Homo sapiens: one gene and its partners. The protein of the gene in region 2 interacts with the protein of the main gene of each other region in a pairwise test. Each region holds a gene or a part of one and is shown on either strand. Other genes may lie near its edges.

Region 1 (6,896 bases), on a different chromosome or scaffold from region 2:
TTTTTGTTACTTAGAAAGCACCTTGATTATTTCCAGTGACTATGTCAGAGCACTTACAAAAGGTGGGTCAGTTATCCTACCTTCTCAGTCAACTTAATATTGCAGTTGATTAGAAATCATTTAAACTGGAAATAGATATAAGCTACATGATCACTATCACTAATGAATGAAAGTAAAGTACAAAATTAAACTAGAAAACTATTTAAAATTTTGCATTTATTTGCTGCTTACTTCTTTTGTGCAATTCAATACCAATGGTATAAATATGATAGCTGATGCTTGTATATTTCTACTTTGGCATAATGACTTTGCTTGGAAAAAAAACTTGAAACTAACATACTGTAAGAATTTGTTCTGATAAATGGTGAGAAATTCTCACTGCTTTATGCTATAAATCAAGAGAAGTTGAAGATTCATGAATAAATCATAATTTATAATATAGTGAAGCATAATTATGTTTCAAAATGTGCATGGAAGAAACTAATGAAAACAACTCACACTTTTGTTCTTCAGATTATTTTACTTGAAATACTTTATAATTAGAATCCAGCTTGTGGAATCACTTAGTCATGAGTCTATTGATTTTAACAAACTAATTTATTAGATTAATTTGGCTTACTTAAAAAATAGCAATCTTTTCTGAAAATGTTTATTAAAATATATATAAAAGGTCTTTACTATAACTAAAAGTGCCCAAATATGTACCATGCTATAATAGTATTTACAATATATTTTCAGAAAAAATGACAATATTCAGATTAAATGCAGGAAAGAAAACATCACATTTTAACACTTAATATTTCCACTGATTCTTCATGCTCTGCAATTAGAAGATAATTTCACTTGTTTAGTTTTCTATCTATTCCAGCAGATTTGTGTTGAAATTTTTTTTCGCCATTAGAAACTGTGATTCTCTATGGGACCTTTTCAGTTTTGCACGCCGATTTTGAAACCAAATCTAAAGTTAAGGAAAAATAAAATAGGTCTCAGAAACATTATTTTATTATTCTTAACATTTCAACATCATGAATAACAACTAAATTTGAAAATTACCTGGATTCTGTCTTCCTCTAGATTCAATTTTTGAGCTAAGTCTTCTCTAATATCGATACCAGGATAGCAGTTTACTCTAAAGACATTTTCTAACACTTCAATCTAAGAAAAAAAAATGTTGATATTCAGTATGTCTCCAAAAATGAGCTTTAATTTCTAGAGTAAAATGACTACATTTAAATCTTGGCAATTAATCTGGATGCCTTTTTAAAAATGATTACCTGGAAATTGTTAAAATATGGTAGTCTACTGTTTCATTAATAAGGCTTCTAAACTGAGATACCAAAGTGAGTGGGCTTTTGCTCAACTTGGTGTCAATTAAAGCCTTTATATTATCATTATTGGGTGAAAAAACTTCCCACCTGGTTTTGAGTAAAAGCAGTTCTTGGTCTTCGGCCTCTATACCAACTCAACTCTCTTTTCAAAGACAGTCTTTCTGAGGCTGAAAAGTAATTTTCATATTTCGAAGCTCTTTCTTCTGGCATTGGGTGATCCACCACGCTAGGGAATGAAATCCCACTGGGAGGATTTGGGACATGTAGACATAAGTTACCATCTTTCCCTAAAAACAAAAAAATAAGCCCTGTCTTAGATGGTCAATCTTATGTTCCACAAAGTTCTATAGAGGTAGTTTCAGGAACTCATCTTTCATTTCCTAGTGGAATTCTGGGGTTCACAAGAGAATTGCACCCCGTTAACCAAAAACCAATAAAAAATGAAGATCCTGTCTTGGTAATCCTGCCTCTTTGGTCTCTGAATGTCGTTTATTTTTCAGTGAAAAGAGATTTCAAATATCTGATGTGTCAAACAGGGAGAGATCTTCTGAAGTAAATGCAGGTTCTTGGGATTTCCTGTGAGTGAATTTATCCACTTTGCTCAATCCAAAGCTGATATTCTTTTAATTTCCCATAGGACTCAGTTGGAGGCATTAAAAGTCCTAGACTCTGGCTGGGCGTGGTGGGTCATGCCTGTAATCCTAACACTTTGGGAGGCTGAGGCAGGCGGATCACCTGAGGTCAGGAGTTCGAGACTAGCCTGACCAACAGGGTGAAACCCCCCTCTACTAAAAAATACAAAAATTAGCAGGCCATGGTGGTGCATGCCTGTAATCCCAGCTACTTGGCAGGCTGAGGCAGGAGAATCGTTTGAACCCAGGAGGCGGAGGCTGCAGTGAGCCAAGATTATGCCATTGCACTCCAGTCTTGGCAACAAGACCAACACTCTGTCTCAGAAAAAAAAAAAAAATAATAAATAATAATAATAAATTAAATTAAAGTCCTAAACTCTAGCTCTATGTAGTATGAAATAAAGGGCAAATTAAACACTGTAAATGAAATAACAAAGAATTGAAACAATTAAGCTGTGGCATACCTGATGAGCTGCAGGTGTCTGCCCAGGGCCTGTGGGGTTTCATTAATGGAACACAGTCTTTCTTCTGGTCCAGTCCTAAGATTCTCTCAATTGAAAAGGAGCAAGTTGAGGGTTTGTTTTCCCCGAGCTGAGCGCCTTCCTGAAGGCTGGGAGACATCCTCTCGTGGTCTGCACAGAGCAACAGCTCTGGCCTCTGCTGGCTCTGCCCCACGTGTATAGGGCTGGGATCTTCCTGCAGTTCACCTTATAGCTCCGCTGACAAGGGGGCTGGATTTAGAACGTCACTAATTAAAATCCTGTCTTAGAAAGTTTTAGCATGTCAATGAACACTTGCCCAGCCAGCAGCTTAAGGAGTTAATTGTTTATTTGTTTGCAAGTAATTAGCAACTAATGGCTACACCAGGGGGGCCACCTACAGGGACAAAAAGTGTTATCTCTCCTAAGCAGAACACAGACTTAACTTTCTCTAAAGAAGTGATGCACAAATGTGGCACTTATCTTTTATTTGAAATCATTAATGTATAAAATCAAGCTTTTTATTCTGAAGTTTATACTTTCATGGGCTCCAGTTACCTAAACATACAGGCAAGATACGAGAGCAGTCGAGTAATAAATAATCTAATTTAAGTAAATTTTCTTCCAAGGAAATGGGAAAAAATAATAATCTCTTAATGCTATTACAGTAATTCTGATGAAAATGCCTGTTTTTCATATGCATATGTAATAGGGAATGTTGTCAATGAAAACACAATAGTATTTGGAGTGCAGCATAGTGGAAAAGGTTGGCAATGTTATTAACATGGAGTGTAATTGTCTTCCAAGTGCCTGGATTAATTCATAGGAACAGTTGCACCAAGTATTTTAAATAATTAATGGGCTAATTCCTTTCCTTCCTCTTTTCTTTTAAATGAGAGAGATACATGTTTATATGAAGGTTCATATGTAATCACCTTCAAGCAACTTAGAAGCATGACTACTTAAAGTGAATAATTTCTCTATCACAGTTATTTCAAAGAAAAGAACATAGTTTGCTTTCTAAAGAAAAATTTCCGTCTGTTGATCTTTTGAGGGATGGGCAGAGGATGGAGTCTTTCAAGATGGTAAGGCTTATGAAAATAACCAAGAACAGAATGTTTTAATTTCATAATCCTAAGAAAACTTGAAATTAAAATTAAAGTATAACTGCTGATTGGGAAGATTTTGAACTGGCTGTTCCCCCCGCAAAGGTATACTTGTAGTTTTTATACTCTGCTCCTCCTCTTCTTCCAGTACCTTCCTGAAGATAAATTTAAGTGCTTAGCTTTATTCATTATTTAAACAACTGCTGTTCTTTCCTTCAGGGAAGGGAAAAACAGTCTCCACTCATAGAGGAAATAGCCTCTATAGGATGGAGCTCATCTTCATCAGCTTTTATCCTATTATGATCTCACAAATATTGAGCTAAATTCCTCCTGATGAAAGCTCTCGGGTAAATAAAGGATCTCACATGCAAAACATCAACAGGCATATGGATTTATAAATGTACGTGTAAAACCATTCTGCGGATGAATAAACCGGTGAACATTTATACCTCATGGAGATTTTGTATATAGTGCTGAGATGTAGATTGTGCAAAGGTGGGGGGTATCTTAATCTGGGACGACTAGGAGGAAGCGAGAGAATACAGGACCTTTTCAGCTTTCTTTCTCTCCTTTGAGACATTCATTATTTCCTTCCACAATTGGTTGAGCACCTTCTCAGAACCAGAAAAAAACAAAATACTATCCTTGCCTTCATAGAGCTCACAGTGGTGCAGGGTGGGGGGCAGGAAACAAATAATAATTATAGGTAAATTATCTAGTATGTTAGCCAGGGTAAGAATGAGAAAAGGAAACAGGTGAGCCAGGTAAGATGAATTAGTGCAGGAAGTGGAGGGGTAGATGTCAGTGTAGGCCTCACTGAGCCCCTGAGCCCCGCAGATGAGTGCCTAAGAGGCACAAGGCAGAAGGATGCCACAGCGCATGCCAGAGCAACTCCAGTTTTCAACTTCTTCTTTATTAACAAAGATGTTCCAATATTTTTATTCAGCTTAAATTGATTTTCCTTGGATTTACATATCTATATCTATCTATCTATATCTATCTATCTATCTATCTATCTATCTATCTATCTATCTATCTATCTATCTATTTTTTTGAGACAGAGTCTTGCTCTGTCGCCCAGGCTGGAGTGCAGTGGTGTGATCTCGGCTCACGGCAAGCTCCGCCTCCCGGGTTCACGCCATTCTCCTGCCTCAGCCTCCTGAGTAGCTGGGACTACAGGCGCCCGCCACCACGCCTGGCTAATTTTTTTGTATTTTTAGTAGAGACGAAGTTTCACCGTGTTAGCCAGGATGGTCTCGATATCCTGACCTCGTGATCCGCCCGCTTCGGCCTCCCAAAGTGCTGGGATTACAGGCTTCAGCCACCACGCCCGGCTGGATTTACACATATCATTTTATATATGGATGAGTAGTTGAAAATAAAAGGCAGGAAAAATTATCTAAAAATGTGAGGGAAGCATTTTCTCATATACTCACTCAACAGATTTTTGTTTGTTTGTTTGCTGGTTTGTTTGAGACGGAATCTCACTGTTACCCAGGCTGGAGTGCGGTGGCGTGATCTCGGCTCACTGCAACCTCCACCTCCTGGGTTCAAGCAGTTCTCCTGCCTTAGCCTCCTGAGTAGCTGGGATTACACGTGTGCACCACCAAGCCTGGCTAATTTTTGTATTTTTAGTAGAGATGGGGGTTTCACCATGTTGGCCAGGCTGGTCTCAAACTCTTGACCTCAAGTGATCCACCTGCCTCGGCCTCCTAAAGTGGTGGGATTACAGGTGTGAGCCACCACCATGCTTGGCCTCAACAGACTTTTACAGGGCACTTAATATGTGCCAGACATTATTATAGGTGCTAGAGATCAGTGACGAACAAAACATGCTAATTTCATGGCATGATAAATACATTGAAAGGAGTGAACAAGGTGATGGAGATGCAATATAATGGCAGAGGGTGACTTAAAATACAGAGGTCGATGGTCGATGGTGGAGGAGGGCCTAAGGAAGTGACATTTTCACTGAAGCTGAGCTAGCATGCCAAGAGCCTGAGAAAAAGCACTGCACTCAGAGACAATGGCAAGTACAAAGGTCTTGCAGTTGAAAATCACTTGGAATGTTTGAGGAGGAAGAAGGCAGTAGTTGGAGTGAAGTCAGTGGTACCAGGTGCATTTGGAGAGCCAGGCTAGGCTGGATAATGGATGGCCTTTATAAAGGACATGGTAAGGAGTTCCAGTGCAAAGAGAAGCCAGGGTAGGGTTTTAAGCTGGGACCAAAATGATAGAATTTGTTTTTAAACCTTACTCTGGCTGCTCTGTGGAAAGGGATTAGAGAGAAGTGAGTGCAACCAGGGAGATCAGTTGGGGAGTTATTTATTCAACACATAATTTGCTAAGCATATACTACTTGCTAGGCATTGTTCTAGGTGTGAGGGATACAGTGGTGAAAACAAAGACAATTGTTTAGCGGCAAAAGATGATGATCCTTTGAAAAAAGCGTGAGGAGAGAGGGTAGATTTGGAGAGAAGTGCAATTCTTTAGAAGGTTATGGGAGATAGAATAATTGAATACTTGGTCCCAATTCTCCAATCCCCATAATATCTTATACAACCATCCCCTTGCTGTGGTTTCATGGTGAATACAGTATACCTCCTACCTCCTGATTTTGGGCTTGTTTGTGGGAAGTGATGTGAGCAGAAGCTCAGTGTGCCCATTTAGGGGTTTTGTTTTTGTTTTTTTTTGAGACAGAGTCTCACTCTGTCACCCAAGCTGGAGTGCAGTGGCGCAACCTCTGCTCACTGCAACCTCTACCACCCAGGTTCAAGTGATTCTCCTGCTTCAGCCTCCCGAGTAGCTGGGACTACAGGTACATGTCATCACACCTGGCTAATTTTTGTATTTTTAGTAGAGATGGGTTTTCACCATGTTGGTCAGGCTGGTCTTGAACTCCTGACCTCAAGTGGTCTGCCTGCCTCAGCCTCCCAAAGTGCTGGGATTCAGGCGTGTAATTTGTATTTTCAGTAGAGACGGGGTTTCACCATGTTGGTCAGGCTGGTCTCAAACTCCTGACCTCAAGTGATCTGCCTGACTCGTCCTCCCAAAGTGCTGGAATTACAGGTGCCCAGCCCCCTCTTGTGCTTTTGACTTCACTGTGAGATCATCCCTGAGATAGCTGCTGCCCTACAGCCTGAGCCCCAGAATGAACACACATGGATCAGATCCTAATCCATCTTGCAGCCTGCAGCCAAGTCAGCCAAGTCCAGCCAATCTCAGCCAAATACCAACTGACCTGCAGTTTTGTGAGAAACATATTCATTGTTTAAGCCACTGAAGTTTTTTCTTTTCTTTTTATTTTATTTTATGTTTTTTTAGAGATAGGATCTCACTATGTTGTCCAGGCTG
Region 2 (8,598 bases):
CACAGAGTGAAACTCCATCTCAAAAAAAAAAAAAAAAAGAAAAAAGAAAAGAAATAGCACTCAAACATAAATTTAATTTTCTCAGCAAGGCAATTTTACTTCCATACAAGGGTGTGTCTCACGGATGGAGCAATGGCGAGAGCACACCTGAACAAGGGAGGGGAAGGGGTTCTTATCCTAACTCAGCTAGTCCCTACTGCTGTGTCTTTCCCCTATTGGCTAGGGTTGGACCACACAGTCTAAGCTAATTCTGATTGGCTATTTTAAAGAGAGCAGGGGTATGAGCCAGAGTGGTGGGATAGGTAGTTTGGCAGGAAGGATGGTTACAGAACAGGTGACTCAGGATGACTAACAACAGAGCAGGTGACCAAGGGTGACTAAGTTCAGAGCAGGTGATAGAGGCTAGGAGGGGGTTGTTTACTGTAACTAGGGGCAAGGAGATGTAAAGAACGAGAAACTTTAAAATGAAGAACAAAGAACAGGAGAGCTGAATATACTGATACATTGGTTCTTTGAAGAGGATCTCAGAACTCATTGTGCTTAACAATTTATAGGCTAAAACCTTTGAAGAGGAATTTATTATATCCTACAATCTTATACTTGGCCTGATTATTTGCGTAAAGTGCAGCAAGAATGGTTATTTTTACTTACATAGGCCTTTTGCATTGGCTTTAATGAAACTCTGTTTCACAAGGAATTTCAGATAAGACTTTTAAAGCCAAGCCCAGCCATGGGTTTGTATCCTCTAACACCTGTGAGTTGGGTGATCCTCTCTTGAGGTCCCAAGATAAACTCAGAGCTTCCAGACCTGTTACAAAGTTATGTGTCTGTTCTTTTACCAGTACCATGCTGTTTGGTTACTGTGGCCCTGTAGTGTAGTTTGAAGTCAGGTAGCGTGATGGATGCAGCTTTATTCTTTTTGCTTAGGATTGCTTTAGCTATTTGGGCTCTTTTTTCATCTGATATTAATTTTAAAATAGTTTTTTCTAGTTTTGTGAAGAATGACAATTGTAGTTTAATGGGGACAGCACTGAATCTATAAATTGCTTTGACTAGTATGGCCATTTTATGATATTGATTCTTCCTATCCATGAGCGTGGAATGGTTTTCCATTTGTTTGTGTCATCTCTGAGTCCTCTGCACAGTGGTTTGTAGTTATCCTTGTAGAGATCTTTCACTTTCCTTGTTAGCTGTATTCCTAGGTAGTTTATTCTTTTTGTGGCAATAGTGAATGGGAGTTCGTTCATGAATTGGCTCTCTGCTTGCCTGTTGTTGGTATATAGGAATGCTAGCGATTTTTGCACGTTGATTTTGTATCCTGAGACTTTGCTGAAGTTGCTAATGAGCTTAAGAAGCTTTTGGGCTGAGATGATGGGGTTTTCTAGATATAGGATCATGTCATCTTCAAACAGGGATAGTTTGACTTCCTCTCTTCTTATTTGAATGCCCTTTTTTTCTTTCTCTTGCCTGACTGCTCTGGCCAGAACTTCCAATACTATGTTGAATAGGAAAATATAAATTTTAAAACATAAGTATTGGCTGGGCACGGTGGCTCACGCCTGTAATCCCAGCACTTTGGGAGGCTGAGGCGGGCGGATCACGAGGTCAGGAGATCAAGACCATCCTGGCTAACGTGGTGAAACCCTGTCTCTACTAAAAATACAAAAAAATTAGCCAGGTGTGGTGGCAGGCGCCTGTAGTCCCAGTTACTCAGGAGGCTGAGAGGCAGGAGAATGGCGTGAACCCGGGAGGCAGAGCTTGCAGTGAGCCGAGATTGAGCCACTGCACTCCAGCCTGGGGGACAGAGCGAGACTGTCTCAAACAAACAAACAAAAGTATTTTTAAAACTTTTAAGTTCAACTTACCAGTCATATAATTCTCATCATAAATCTAGTGAATGTTAACATTTTTTAGAAACAGGGTCTCACTATGTTGCCCAGGCTGGTCTTCAACTCCTGGCTTCAAATCATCCACCCACCTTGGCCTCCCATGGGATTACAGGTGTAAGCCCCTGCACCCAGCCAAGGGGGCTTTAATTAATAATTGGTTGGTCTTCTTTTCAAAATTAAAACTGCTTTAGGCAGCTTATACTGCAGTTGTTCATCCAATATATTTTATTTCCTTTTTTAAAGCGATTGATTGATAAACCAGCCTCCCAAATACCTTTACTGCAACCTAATAAAAGTAAACATATAAATACAGTAAATCTTAATTTTATTTTTTTTAATGTTCTGGTTCTACTTGCAATCTCAATAAGAAACTTTAAAATTCAAAATCAATTATTCAATAACCCAATTTAAACTTGAATCTGCAGACGTATCTTTTAAGCACTCTAATATACCAATTTTAAACATTTTAAGAACCTGAAATAACAGAGTTCTTTCCTTTCGCTGCTGCAGCCGCAGCCATAAATATGCTCAGGCTTTAGAAGAGGTTCGCTTCTAGTGTCCTCTGCTGTGGCAAGAAGGTCTGGTTGGACCCCAGTGAGACCAATGAAATCGCCAATGCCAGCTCCCATCAGCAGATCCGAAAGCTAATCAAAGATGGGCTGATCATCGGCAAGCCTGTGATGGTCCATTCCCAGGCTCCATGCCAGAAAAACACCTTGGCCTCCCGGAAGGGCAGGCACACGGGCATAGGTAAGCGGAAGGGTACAGCCAACGTCCGAATGCCAGAGGTCACGTGGATAAGGAGAATGAGGATTCTGTGCTGGCTACTCAGAAGATACCGTGAATCTAAGAAGATTGATCGCCACATGTATCACAGCCTGTACCTGAAGGTGAAGGGGAATGTGTTCAAAAACAAGCGGATTATCCTGGAACACATCCACAAGCTGAAAGCAGACAAGGCCTACAAGAAGCTCCTGGCTGACCAGGCGGAGGCCCGCAGGTCTAAGACCAAGGAAGTGTGGGCAGAGGATTACCCAGGTGCCGAGGCAAGAGACTGAAGGCACAGACGGTTTCAGTATAATAAAGAAAATAGTTAGAATAAGAATAGTCATAATACAAAGTAGATATAGAGATGATCATGGATAATTATCAATCATTATTATAAACATTATTAATCATTAGCTTTTAATATTACTCTTTGTTGCATTACTAATATAACCTAGGAATAACCGGCGGGTATAGGGTCAGGTGCTGAAGTGACATTGTGAGAAGTGACCTAGAAGGCAAGAGGTGAGCCCTCTGTCACGCCCCCATAAGGACCACTTGAGGGCTCCTTGGTCAAGCGGTAGTGCCAGTGTTTGGGAAGACGCCCATTACTTAGCAGACCGCGAAAGGGAGTCACCTTTCCTTGGAGGAGTCAGGGAACACTCCGCTCCACCAGCTTCTTGTGGAAGGTTGGATATTATCCAGGCCTGCCCGCAGCCATCCGGAGGCCTAAACCCCTCCCTGTGGTGCTGTGCTCCAAAGGTCACGCTCCTTGTCCACTTTCATGTTCCTGCCGTACTCCTGGTTCCTCTTTGAAGTTTGTAGTAGATGGCGGTAGAAGAAATAGTGAAAGTCCTAAAGTCTTTGATCCTTCTTATAAGTGCATAGAAGAAAACGCTGATGTATGCTGCCGTCTCTCTCTCTGCTTCGGCTACCTAAGAGGGAAGGGCCCCCTGTCCTGTGATCATGTGACTTGCTTCACCTTGTCAATCACTTAGAAGACTCGCCCTCCTTACCGTGCCCCCTTGTCTTGTGTGCAATAAATATCAGCGCGCCCAGCCGTTCTGGGCCACTACCAGTCTCCATGTCTTGATGGTAGTGGTCTCCCGGGCCCAGCTGTTTTCTCTTTGTCTCTTTGTCTTGTGTCTTTATTTATTACAATCTCTCGTCTCCACACACAGGGAGAACACCCGCTAAGCCCCGTAGGGCTGGACTCTACAGGTGGATCACTTGAGCTCAGGAGTTCAAGACCAGCCTGGCCAACATGGTGAAACCCCATCTCTACTAAAAATACAAAAATTAGCCAGGTGTGGTGGCGGGTGCCTGTAGTCCCAGCTACTTGGGAGACTGAGGCAGGAGAATCACTTGAACCTGGCAGGAGGAGGTTGCAGCTGAGATCATGCCACTGCATTCTAGCCTGGGTGACAGAGTGAGACTCTTTCTCAAAAATAATTAAAACAAACAAATAAATAAATAAAAATAATAAAAATAAAAATACAAAAATTAGCTGGGCATGGTGGCACACTCCTGTAGTTCCAGCTACTCAGGAGGCTGAGGTAGGAGAATCACTTGAACCCAGGAGGCAGAGGTTGCAGTGAGCCAAGATGGCGCCACTGCACTCCAGACTGGCAACAGAGTGAGACTCTCTAAAAAAAAAAAAAAAAGCGCCTCACCAGGAATAAGTCCAGTCAAAGAGTTTGCTATGTTGTCATTGTTGTTATCATTATTGTTACATGTATTAGAACTGTAACTTGCAGAGATATTCATGTAGCAGCTAATTGGATAGTGTGCATTTGAGACTCTGTCTGACTTTCGTTCATATCTTCTAAGGTCATTTTTTTTTTTTTGAGACAGATTACAGGCATGTGCCACCACTCCCTGGTAATTTTTGTATTTTTAGTAGAGATGGGTTTCACCATGTTGGCCAGGCTGGATCTCAAACTCCTGGCCTCAAGTGATCCACCTGCCTGGGACTCCCAAAGTGCTGGGATTACAGGTGTGAGCCACCACACCTGGCCTCTTCTAAGGTCATTCTAATGACCCATTTCTTCACTCTGCCTCTTAAGAATATCAAATGTGGGCCAGGCGCGGTGGCTCACACCTGTAATCCCAGCACTCTGGGAGGCTGAGGCAGGAGGATCACGAGCTCAGGAATTCAAGACCAGCCTGGCCAATATGGTGAAACCCCATCTCTACTAAAAATACAAAAATTAGCTGGGCGCGGTGGTGTGCGCCTGTAGTCCCAGCTACTCGGGAGGCTGAGACCTCAAGAAGAATTGCTTGAACCCGGGAGGCAGAGGTTGCAGTGAGATGAGAATGCGCCACTGCACTCCAGCCTGGGTGACAGAGCGAGATTGCGTCTCAAAAAAGAAAAAAATATATATCAAATGCTCCCTCTGCTGGACAACACCTCAAGCTTGTGCTGAGCCCCAAACCTGCAGTGTCAGTTCCCTCCAAGGTCTGGGTGTAGTAAAGTGGGTTGATGGCCCTTTAAGAGGCACTGTCCAGCTCTGGTTGCCATGGAGACAGCTGGACACAGACCGGGTAGAGGCAGGCCCACAGCATGTCCTCCAAGGTTTACTCCACAGGTGGGAAGAGGACTGCTGGGGCTGGAGGCGGGGATCCTCTTCTTTCTTCCCAATCCACCCTCGGGGTAGTCTTAGAGGATTCTGTTCTTGGGTGCTGGGGCCAGGACTGAGGTACCCTGCCTTGCCTCCCTGACCCCTGCCCTTCTCCCCAGGGTCTGCCATCTTAGCCTCTCATCCCTCTGTAGGCTCCAGAGCTAAGGACCACCAGCCCTCGGGTCCGGAGTGTCTGCCACTCCCAGAGGCCAATGCTGAAGCCATCGACTTCCTCAGCTCCCTCCGTGAGCTCAGACAGTGTCGGGGTTGGGGGTGCGGGAGGGGTGCAAGTCTGGAGAGGAGGGAAGAAAGTCCAGTCTCTCTCTCTCTCTCTCTCTCTCTCTCTCTTCCTTGATTCTCCTGGGACTCAGAAAAGGCCTGAGGCCTGTTTGTTGACATTCTTCAAGGGAAGGCCCCCCGGGGACATGGGGACATGGGGCAGGAGTCTTCACCTGTCCGTGCCAGTGAGGAAGGCTGTGGGATGAGGAGGCAGGTGGGGACTGTGGGGACACTGGTGGTCATGGGGTCAGAGGATTGGATTGGGGCCCAGGAGCAGGGGCTTTATCTGTTCCCACGGGCCCCTCACCCCAGACAAGGAGGAGCTACAGATGCTGTTCTTCTCTGAGACGCTGGCCATGGTCTCAGACACCGGGGAGCCTCAGGGAGAGCTGACCATTGAGGTGCAGAGAGGGAAATACCAGGAAAAACTCGGCATGCTGACATACTGCCTCTTCGTGCATGCCTCTAGCCGAGGCTTCTTGGACAAAATGCTCTGCGGAAATTCCCTCCTGGGTAGCGTTCCTACTGCCTGATGCCCGTCACTCTCCCCTTCCTCCAACCCTCCCCTCCACCAATTCCTAGAATCTTTTTTCAGGACCAAGCCCTTGGCTTTGCCTTGGACCAGGACAAGGCACGGGGTGGGAGAGGGATGAGCGAGTTCCTCATGGACTCGGGATGAGGGCACATCTTACCCATCCTGTAGTTTTTCTGGGACCGTATTACACCTAGTCCTCCAGCTGCGCCACCACCTTCCCTTCCTTCAGCCTCTGACCCACATCTCCTGTGACGTCAATGCCTGTGTCCCTGCACCCCAGGCTATCTCTCAGAGAAGCTGGAGCTCATGGAACAGCACAGCCAAGACTTCATCAAGGTACTTCCCAGGGCCCCAGCCTTGACCCAATCCAGGGGAGAGAAGACAGATTTTGACTTAAAAAACAGCAGCAACAACAAACCAAAAAACCTATTACATACACAGTGAAGCTGAAGAATAGCAATCGTGTTATGATGCAATGTAAAGCTCAAAAGCAACGCACTTCAGAAAACTGATTTTAAAACACGGGGGTGGGCTGGGCACAGTGGTTCACACCTGTAATCCCAGCACTTTGGGAGGCAGAGGTGGGCGGATCACCCTGAGGTCAGGAGTTCGAGACCAGCCTGGCCAACATAGCGAAACCTCATCTGTACAAAAATTAGCCAGGCATGGTGGTGCACGCCTGTAGTCCCAGCTACTCAGAAGGCTGAGGCAGGAGAATCGCTTGAACCCAGGAGGCAGAGATTGCCGTGAGCCGAGATCGCGCCACTGCACTCCAGCCTGGGTGACAGAGCAAGACTCCGTCTCAAGAAAAAAATTAAAAAACAATGAGGGTGGGCCAGGCACAATGGCTCAAGCCTATAATCCCAGCACTTTGGGAGGCCAAAGTGGGAGGATCCCTTGAGCCCAGGAGTTTGAGCCTGGGCAACATGGCAAAACCCACCAAAAATGTTTATAAATTTTGTACAAAAAATACAAAAAGTAGCTGGGTGTGGTAATGTGTGTCTGTAGTCCCAGCTACTTGGGAGGCTGAGGTGGAAGGTTCAGCGGAGCCCAGGAGGTCAAGACTGCAGTGAGCAATGTGCGTGCCACTGTACTCCAGCCTGGGTGACAGAATGAGACCCTGTCTCAAAAAAAAAAAAAAAAGAAAAAAGAAGAAAAAAGATGTAGGTTGGGCACGGTGGCTCACGCCTGTAATCCCAGCAATTTGGGAGGCTGAGGCAGGCGGATCACCTGAGGTCGGGAGTTGAAGACCAGCCTGACCAACATGGAGAAACCCTGTCTCTACTAAAAACACAAAATTAGCCGGGCGCAGTGGCTCACACCTGTAATCCCAACACTTTGGGATGCCGAGGCAGGTGGATCATGAGGTCAGGAGTTCAAGACCAGCCTGGCCAAGATGGTGAAACCCTACCTCTACTAAAAATACAAAAAGAAAATTATCCAGGCATGGTGGTGGGCACCTGTAATCCCAGCTACACGGGAGGCTGAGACAGGAGAATTGCTTGAACCCAGGAGGCGAAGGTCGCAGTAAGCCAGGATCACACCACTGCACTCCAGCCTGGGCAACAGAGCGAGACTCTGTCTCAAAAAAAAAAAAAAAAAAAAAAATGTTGGGGATGGTTTCTGGTTTCTGTGGGAAGGTTTTTAGACTTGAGTAGTTTCCAGTGTGTAAACAGGTCATGTTCACATTCCACAAGTTAATTAAGTGGCTGGGGCTGGGTGTGAGGGGCACAGAGCTGGGAGACTTGGAGGCCAGGTGAAACAGGCCCCCAGGGAAGGCTAGGCTCTGGGAAAGGCCAGCCCACCAGGCCTCCAGGGAGGCACTGGGCTCTCAGGCTGGAGGAGGGCTGGTGTGGGCTGGGTTCAGAGTTTGGGTATCAGGAGAACTTATCAGTGGCAACCTGCTGTCCCTGCACCTGGCCCACCCCCATCTTTTAAAACCAGTGTTCTGAAGTGCACTGTTTTTGAACTTTATATTGCATCATAACACGACTGCTATTCTTCAGCTTCACTGTGTATGAAAGGTGTTTTTTGGTTTTTGTTGCTGCTGCTTTTTTTTTTTTATTTTATTATTATTATTATTTTTGAGACAGAGTCTTGCTCTTATCACCCAGGCTGGAATGCAGTGGTGCAATCTAGCTCACTGCAACCTTCACCTTCCGGGTTCAAGCAATTCTCCTGTCTCAGCCTCCCAAGTAGCTGGGAATTACAGACATGCACCACCACACCTGGTTAATTTTTGTATCTTTAATAGAGATGGGGTTTTGCCATGTTGGCCAGGCTGGTCTTGAACTCCTGACCTCAAGTGATCTGCCCGCCTGGGCCTCCCAAAGTGCTGGGATTACAGGCATGAGCCACAACACCTGGCCCTGCTGCTTGGTTTTTTGTTTGTTTGTTTGTTTGTTTTTGAGATGGAGTCTCAAAAACAGCCTGTTGCCCAGGCTGGAGTGTAGTGGTGCGATCTCGGCTCACTGCAACCTCCGCCTCCGGGTTCAAGCAATTCTTCTGC
Region 3 (7,239 bases), on a different chromosome or scaffold from region 2:
CAGAACTAAGGTGCATACTCTCAAAACTGCCATCTACCACTCCAGCAGTAATAACATTAAATTGGGCACAGCATGTGGAAAATACCATAGCAAGTGCACCCTGGTGTCACTGATCCAGGGAATGCTGAGATTTTTTTTTTTTTTTTTTTTTTTTGAGACAGGGTCTCACTGTGTTGCCTAGGCTGGAGTGCAGTGGCACCATCTCGGCTCACTGCAAGCTCCACCTCCAAGATTCAAGCCATCCACCTCCCACCTCGGCCTCCTGAGCAGCTGGGACCACAGGTGCATGTCACTATGCCCAGCTAATTTTTGTAGACAGGAGGTCTCACTATGTTGCCCAAGCTGGCCTCGAAGTCCTGGACTCAAGCAATCCGCCCACCTCAGCCTCCCAAAGTGCTGGGATTACAGGCATGAGGCACTGCACCCAGCCCTGAGATCTTTGGAAGCATGCCAGAACAGACTGGTGAAAATAAATCATGCAAATCTTTAATAAAACTGGCCAGAGCTTATTTTTCAAAAAGAAGGAAGGAAGGAAGGGAGGGAGGGAGGGAGAGAGGGAAGGAAGTGGGGAGGGAGGGAGGGGAGGGAGGGAGGTTTTATGCTATCTCTAAAGCCAAAAACAACTGGCAAATTTGGCAGCTCAGAGGAACGAAGCTTTAGATATCTGAGTTCTGGCTTCGGCATACCTCCCACCTCCTGATTCCCGAGGGCAGAACCTCTCACTGCTGCCCACAGTCCAGTCCTCCCCCTCTGCCTGGAAGGCTGTCTCCATTTAGACCACATTCCCTCCTGGCCATCCTTCAGGACTGCACACTCAGTTATAAAAGCCTCCTTCCCTGCCTGAGGACAATAGATAGCTCCTTCCATCACCCAAATTATTTTCAGAGGCTCCTTGCTATTTCCCAGGTACAAAAGAAGCCCTCACAGTATTGCTTATACAATGATAGCCTATTATTTGTTGTTTTGTATTTGCACCCTGGTCTGTGTTACCTGGTCACTGTGGCCCAGTTGTTTATTCTAGATTCAAAGCTGTCAGGGGAATCACTGTTGTTTAATTTTCTTTTGTGTAGGAGGTGTTCAAAGCAAAAGTTAGATGACAGACTTCAAAATCATTTCAGATTCTGCAGCACTGTTTGCTACAATTAGGAGAACTGGTTCTGTCAAAACCCTAACTTACGGCTTCGTTCATTCTGGACATTTTTATTTTTCATACCCTGCTCTCAAATACAATGGGTATCTTCTTTTTAAATCTGCACACATCTGACTCAGTTCCTCCCACAGTCCTCCGCTTATGGTTTGGAATTGGAATTTTCATTTCACTAAGAAAGGGAGAAATTCTTGCTGGGGAATGGTTCTTCAGGCATTCAGAGCCCTCACTATCTTTGGAAAAGCAAGGTTTTTTCTCCAAGAGTTTTGAAGACTGCACGTTCAATATCTCATTTTGTTTGCTTCCCTCTCTTGGCTCCCTCCTACCCACAGGGTGCCACAGCACGCTGTCTTTCCCAGTAGCAAAGGCGCTGTGTCTCAAAAGCTGGCTATCTTATTCATTTCTGAGTCAAACTCTAGACCATGCTTGCCTCTTCAGGCACTTGGCTCTCTCAGCACAAATATAACAGGTCTTTGCACTCCAGGCCCTTGCCAAGAGTGAACTCTGGAGGCCTGAGGCCATGTGGAATCAGGCCTGAAGTGCCCTCCTTTACCCTGTGGCACCAAAGCCTGCTTCAGATGGCTGGGCCACATCCTGCCGGTCTGCCAAGAAGAGCTTGGGGGCACTCTGGCCACAACAGTCAAGCATCCTGGGGGCCTCCTTCCCATTAAGGCCCTCAGGTTTCGCACTTATTTCCCCAGAACTTATCTGTGCCTTCCACAGCCCACATGGCCCCGGGCTGGACTTCCAGGGGCTTTGTTCCCTTCTCAGCTGCGGTTTATTTGTTTACTTTTGAAACACGAAGTGAGGCCAGAGATGGGAAACTTTGAGCTTTTGCATGCTTCTCCACTCGGTCTCCTCACTGGAGAGGGCTGGCAGTGCTCAGAATGGTGCATGCCCCCTGCTCCTCACCGCCACCCATGCTCCAAAGCCAGGATGTGAGTCTTGCAGAGCTGCAGACAGCCCCTAAAGGGTGTGCTCCCAATTTGAGCTCATCTGACCCAGTTAAGGAGCCAGAATGGGAGAAGCATCTGCCACTCATGAGCTCTGGCTGGGGGGCCCCTGCCCTCCCCCTCGCCCCCAGTCCTGATGCCCTTCTGGGCGGCTTCAAGCAGCAGCTGCAAAATGTCAGTGCAAGAGGCAGAAGAACCAGGGCGAGCGTGCAGGCTCCGGGTGATAGAAGCAGAAGGAAAGTCTAGAAGCGCACGGAGCAAGGGGCCACGCGGTGTCGCAGGCAGCGAGGACAGCCCAGGCTCCCAGAGACCGCAGCCGGGTGGAGGCGTCTGCGGGTACCAGGCGACGGGCCAGGGCGCACGGCGAGGCCACCCACCTCTTGATGTAGCTGCTGAGGCGGTAGAGCTGCCCGTCGAGGCGCACGAGGCCGTCACCGAAGACGTTGAAGCCCCCCCGCGCCGCCGCCGGCTCCCCGGGCCTGGCCACCACGAGCTGGTCGCCGCTCAGCTGGAAGGCACCGGGCTGCAGGCGCAGCAGCTGAGCCAGCGGCAGCAGGGCCAGCTCGCAGTCGCAGGTCCACAGGCTGCGAAGCTCCCCAGACGAGATGGAGGTCAGGCTCGGCCTGGCCACCGGCTCGCAGGCCGCCCCCGCCATGCCCGCGTCGTCGGTCCTCACACCGCCTGCTTCCGTCCGGTGCCTACAGCCCCCAGCCGGCACCTGATGGTCCCCAGGAGGGGCCGGGCGCCCTGCCTGCGTCAGCCGCGCGCGAGGTGAGGAGGGGGTCGGTCTGCCCGCCTGGCCGGGACGCGGTGGCCGCTCAGGTGCCAGTCTGACCGCCCGGGCGGCCCCTCCCAAGCTGCCACTCGCTGGGAGCCCTGCAGGCACCGCGCGGAGAAAGCGGCCCCGGCGCAGCGCGGCCCCTTTTATCCGCCCTCTGGACGCCCGCCTCGCCCCTGCCGGCCCACGGCCACGACCCCAGAGGCTCGGGGCAGAGTTATCATCGTCTCATAACTTGGCATGCTCGAGTCTGCTCGCAGGCAAGGCTTAGTCATCCCCCTGGGGTCCACTACTCAACACCAGCGCTGGCCCCCGCCCTGCCTGGCGGACACTGCCGGAGGCTGGAGGTGGGGAGAGTCCTCCCCGGGTTCCCAGGCCCTGCCTATGGTGGGCGGCAGGGCGCACAGCACCCATCCTTGCCTAAGACACCACACCCCTGGTGTTGATTGGAGAAGAAGGCAAGGGCTCTGGCCCTACCCATTCCACCTGGGACCCAGAGGCTGTCAAAGGCCAGTGCTGGAACTCCGATCCCCACCTCAGTACCAGACCTCTCACTCAGCCTCAGTTTTCTGCCATTTTAACTCCATCCAGATCGTACCCTGCATTTCCCTCCTTTCAGCCTTTCCTTCAGCTGGTTGCTGGCCCTGGATCCCTTCCCCCTAGAAATCCCACTGATCATCACATCGCTTTTCCATAAAGCCTTCACGAATCCCACGAGGGTTTCATCGCTTTGCTTCTCCTTTCTACTGCACGGTGAACCCTAGACTGCAATGTGCCGTGTAGTGGGGATAGCAGGGTCCTAGCATCCTCCCTTCTCCCCTGCCTCCCCAGTAGGTGGTGATCTCCTTGAGCCCCAGAATATGTTCATTTCTTCAGTCTATAAATATGTGAGTGCTAGCTATGGGCTCATTGATCTCCTGAGGTATGAAAGGAGAACTATATTATTCCATTTAATTAAACACCTATTTCTGCTGCGGAGAAGCCTGGATGGGATGGGAGGAGAATCTAGCCTAGTTTCGAGGCTTTCTGTAGTACTGTGTTTTAGGATTCTAAGCTACATCCCAAAAGTTGAGTAGAACGTAGAGAATATCCTTAGTTAGTCTTTGTGTGCCCCCACATGAACTCTTGTGTAGGTTTAATCAGATGGGATGAAGAGTCCTCCCGCCACATCTCATTTAAATCTCAGAATATAAATGAGCCCCACTCTCTTCTCTTCTTCTAGGTGCACACCTATCCTTTCTCCAGACATGGATCTTTTACCCATGGGATCATTACCCCATCTCTGGGCCTCTCTGAACAAATCTAATTCACTGAGCATGAATTGATCACTACCCACTCAACCTTTTGTGGCGCAGGAAGGATGCTCTACCTGTGAAAAAAGCATCCAGAAGATCTTCTTGCAAAGGGAGGTTTGAGGATCCCTGCAAAGAGAATGGGTCTGGGGTGGGCTGAGACTGTAGACAGGACTCAGAGGCTGGGGCTGTTTTCACAGGGGAGGGATTTGGTGCCAGCAGTTAAATCCATTGTGCCCTATTTAGAACTTCACTCTTGTCCCAAACATTGACAGAGTCATCACTATGCACCAGGGACCATCTTAAGCTCTGAGGTCACACACACACACACACAAGGATCCAATAAGTGCTACCATAGATGTATGGACTAAGCACTATGAGAAATAAGTGGTTCTGCCCCAAGAAGGGTGCTCAAAGGAGGTGACACATGGCTAGACTTCCAATACACAGGGGAGGCTCCCAGGGGAAGGAGCAGCAGCAATAAGGAGATGGGAGAGAAGATTCTGTACCATTCTATGCAAAGAGAGATGCTATGGTTCCATCTGGGGGAGGGGGGAAATTTTTAAACAGCTAGGGCAGACCATCCTATTTGGGATAAGAGGGGTCAGTTTTATATGAGATGAGACCAGAAAGGGCTGTTGGAGCCAGATTGTGACAGACCCTCTGAGTTGTCAGGAATTTGGATTCTTAAGACAATGAGGAGCCTTGGGATGTTTTAAAGAAAGGAAGTGATATAATTATGCCTCAGTTCAGATAGACACCTTTGGTTATGACCAAAGAAGATGTTTTGAAACAGGAAGATCAGAGGCAGAGAAACCAGTTAGGAGATTGATGTAATAATCCAGATAACATATGATGGGGGTCTGAACAGAAGCAGCTGTGGGAATGGAGATGAGGTTTCAACATTTTTGAGTCAGAGTCAGCAGGAAGGATCTTATGAGTAAATAAATGAAAAAGAGCAGAGAGACCCACTTAGTCTCTTGCTTGGGTACCCAGAGAGATGGTGACACCATTAACGAAGCTAGGGTTCACAGGAGGAAGAGTAGGAGTTTGAGGAGAGATAGTGATGAGTTCAGGGGGGACATACTGATTTTGAGCTACTTATGGAACATCAAGGTAGAAAAGTCCAGGAGGCAAGGAGTTAGTTGGGTCTGGCGTTTTGGAAAGACAAGGTCAATGATTGAGATTTGAAAGTCTCTAGATCAAAGACGGGGTTGAAGCCAAAGAAGTGGATGGGGGCATCTAGCTAATACATGATAGGGTAGGAATTTGAACCCAGGCCTTTAGTTTACTTCAACATATGTTAATTGAGCATCTGCTATGTTCAGTGCTTTGCTGGAGATACAGAGTTGAATAGAGGATGGCCCCTGTCCTCAAATAACAGGGAGAAATGCAGGAATCAGCATGAACTAGTCTTCTGGCACCATGTCCAAACATGTGGCTGAAATCTAGTTATATTTTGCCTGTGTCTCCAACCTGCTGGTGGAATACAACCTCAACAACAATAACAGCTGCAGAAGTTGCTTTCAATTAGTAAGTCAAGGAGGGCAGGTCCACTACAGAGCCCTCACCAGCCCCTACTCTCCCCATTCCACATAGATCGAACTCAACAACTCACCCTATGAGCTTCACATAGATCAAGCTCAACAACTCTTGATTGCCCTTAAACCTACACCACACTGTCTATGAATGATTTGGCTTTCTTGAAGGGTAAAATGTTACATCGGGGTTTTATATCAGAATTATATGCATTTGTTTAAGATAAACATACCAGTCCCTCCTATCAAAAAACCGTTTCCTGGGCAGGCACGGTGGCTCACACCTATAATTCCAGTATTCTGGGAGGCCAAGGCATGTGGATCGCCTGAGGTCAGGAGTTCCAGACCAGCCTGGCCAACATGGTGAAATCCCATCTCTACTAAAAATACAAAAATTAGCTGGGTATGGTGTTGAATGCCTGTAATCCTAGCTACTTGGGAGGCTGAGGCAGGAGAATCGCTTGAACCTGGGAGGCAGAGGTTGCAATGAGCCAAGATCGTGCCATTGCACTCCAGCCTGGGTGACAAGAGTCAAACTCCATCTCAAAAAAAAAAATCCGTTTCCTTCATAGTAAGATATCAACACTTAGATCTGAGTAGAAGAATTAAACGAAATTTTTCTTTACCTCACCACAGTTGTGTGATTTTACACTTTTCCTGTATTTTCCAAATAAATGTGTATTGTTTTATACAGAAAAATGATGTTGAGCATAATAAAAATATTTTAAAGATGCTTTCTTGGTATGTTGTCTAGAGGTTTCATTTGATGCGTTTTCAGCAAAACACCTGCATTTCTTTATGGGTAATTTATGCATTACCAAAATGCCAGAGAAAGATATGAAAAAGTGAACAGAAAAAAAATAGTATTCAATGTAATGTAAGCCATTGCTAATAAGTAGAGAGCTAGAGAGATCTTTTCATGTTTAATGTCTTTTTCATTACCCAAGTACCAGCCAGGCAAACAATCACTCCTGGTGACGACCTTTTCAGTCTTTTTTTGGTTTGCTTACATAGTTGTGTTCCTATCGTAGAATTTTTATTCGGCTTTGTGCATTTAACATTATATGTATATTATGTTGTGAAAATTTCATTTTCTTTGTGAATAGTATTTTAAATCACTATGCTATTTTCCATCAAGTGTATATTCTATTGTTTGTCTAGACATTTCTTTACTCTTGAACACTCAGATTGTTTCTTGTTTTTCCTTATAAACAATGCTGCAATAAACATCTTCATACTTTGATTTCGTTTTTCTGTATCCAAGCTCTCAGAGATGGAATTACTGGGACAAATGATATGAGAATGTGCATTGCTCTGGAAACGTGTGTCATTATTCTCCTAAAGGCTGGCACCAATTTGTCTTCTCACCAGCAGTGATTTTTCATGGTTTTAAATCTTTGCAGTTGGGGTAGGGTACCTCACAGCTATTTACGCTACAAGTGAGATTAACAGTTTAGCTATAATGTTACCACTCAAATTTAGAGACTTTATAGCAAGGCAATCACCCATTGGTGAGTCTGTGGCTATGCTC

What was found. The genes of interacting proteins can lie anywhere in the genome.
Region 1: the proteins of CATIP (region 2) and HESX1 interact in binary tests that used the Homo sapiens proteins (3 or more experiments, as listed by UniProt).
Region 3: the proteins of CATIP (region 2) and MEDAG interact in binary tests that used the Homo sapiens proteins (3 or more experiments, as listed by UniProt).

The regions. Positions count from the first base shown.
Region 1 is NC_000003.12:57,197,338-57,204,233, forward strand, and holds HESX1 (homeobox expressed in ES cells 1), read right to left. Parts: upstream 2,642-6,896; 5' UTR 2,582-2,641; coding exon 2,425-2,581; intron 1,616-2,424; coding exon 1,416-1,615; intron 1,156-1,415; coding exon 1,054-1,155; intron 959-1,053; coding exon 860-958; 3' UTR 501-859; downstream 1-500.
Region 2 is NC_000002.12:218,351,668-218,360,265, forward strand, and holds the start of CATIP (ciliogenesis-associated TTC17-interacting protein), read left to right. Parts: upstream 1-5,189; 5' UTR 5,190-5,217; coding exon 5,218-5,242; intron 5,243-5,394; coding exon of another isoform or gene 5,395-5,427; coding exon 5,428-5,520; intron 5,521-5,866; coding exon 5,867-6,067; intron 6,068-6,246; exon of another isoform or gene 6,247-6,299; intron 6,300-6,318; exon of another isoform or gene 6,319-6,369; coding exon 6,370-6,425; intron 6,426-8,598. UniProt on the Homo sapiens protein: Plays a role in primary ciliogenesis by modulating actin polymerization.
Region 3 is NC_000013.11:30,902,032-30,909,270, reverse strand, and holds the start of MEDAG (mesenteric estrogen-dependent adipogenesis protein), read right to left. Parts: upstream 3,001-7,239; 5' UTR 2,756-3,000; coding exon 2,478-2,755; intron 1-2,477. UniProt on the Homo sapiens protein: Involved in processes that promote adipocyte differentiation, lipid accumulation, and glucose uptake in mature adipocytes.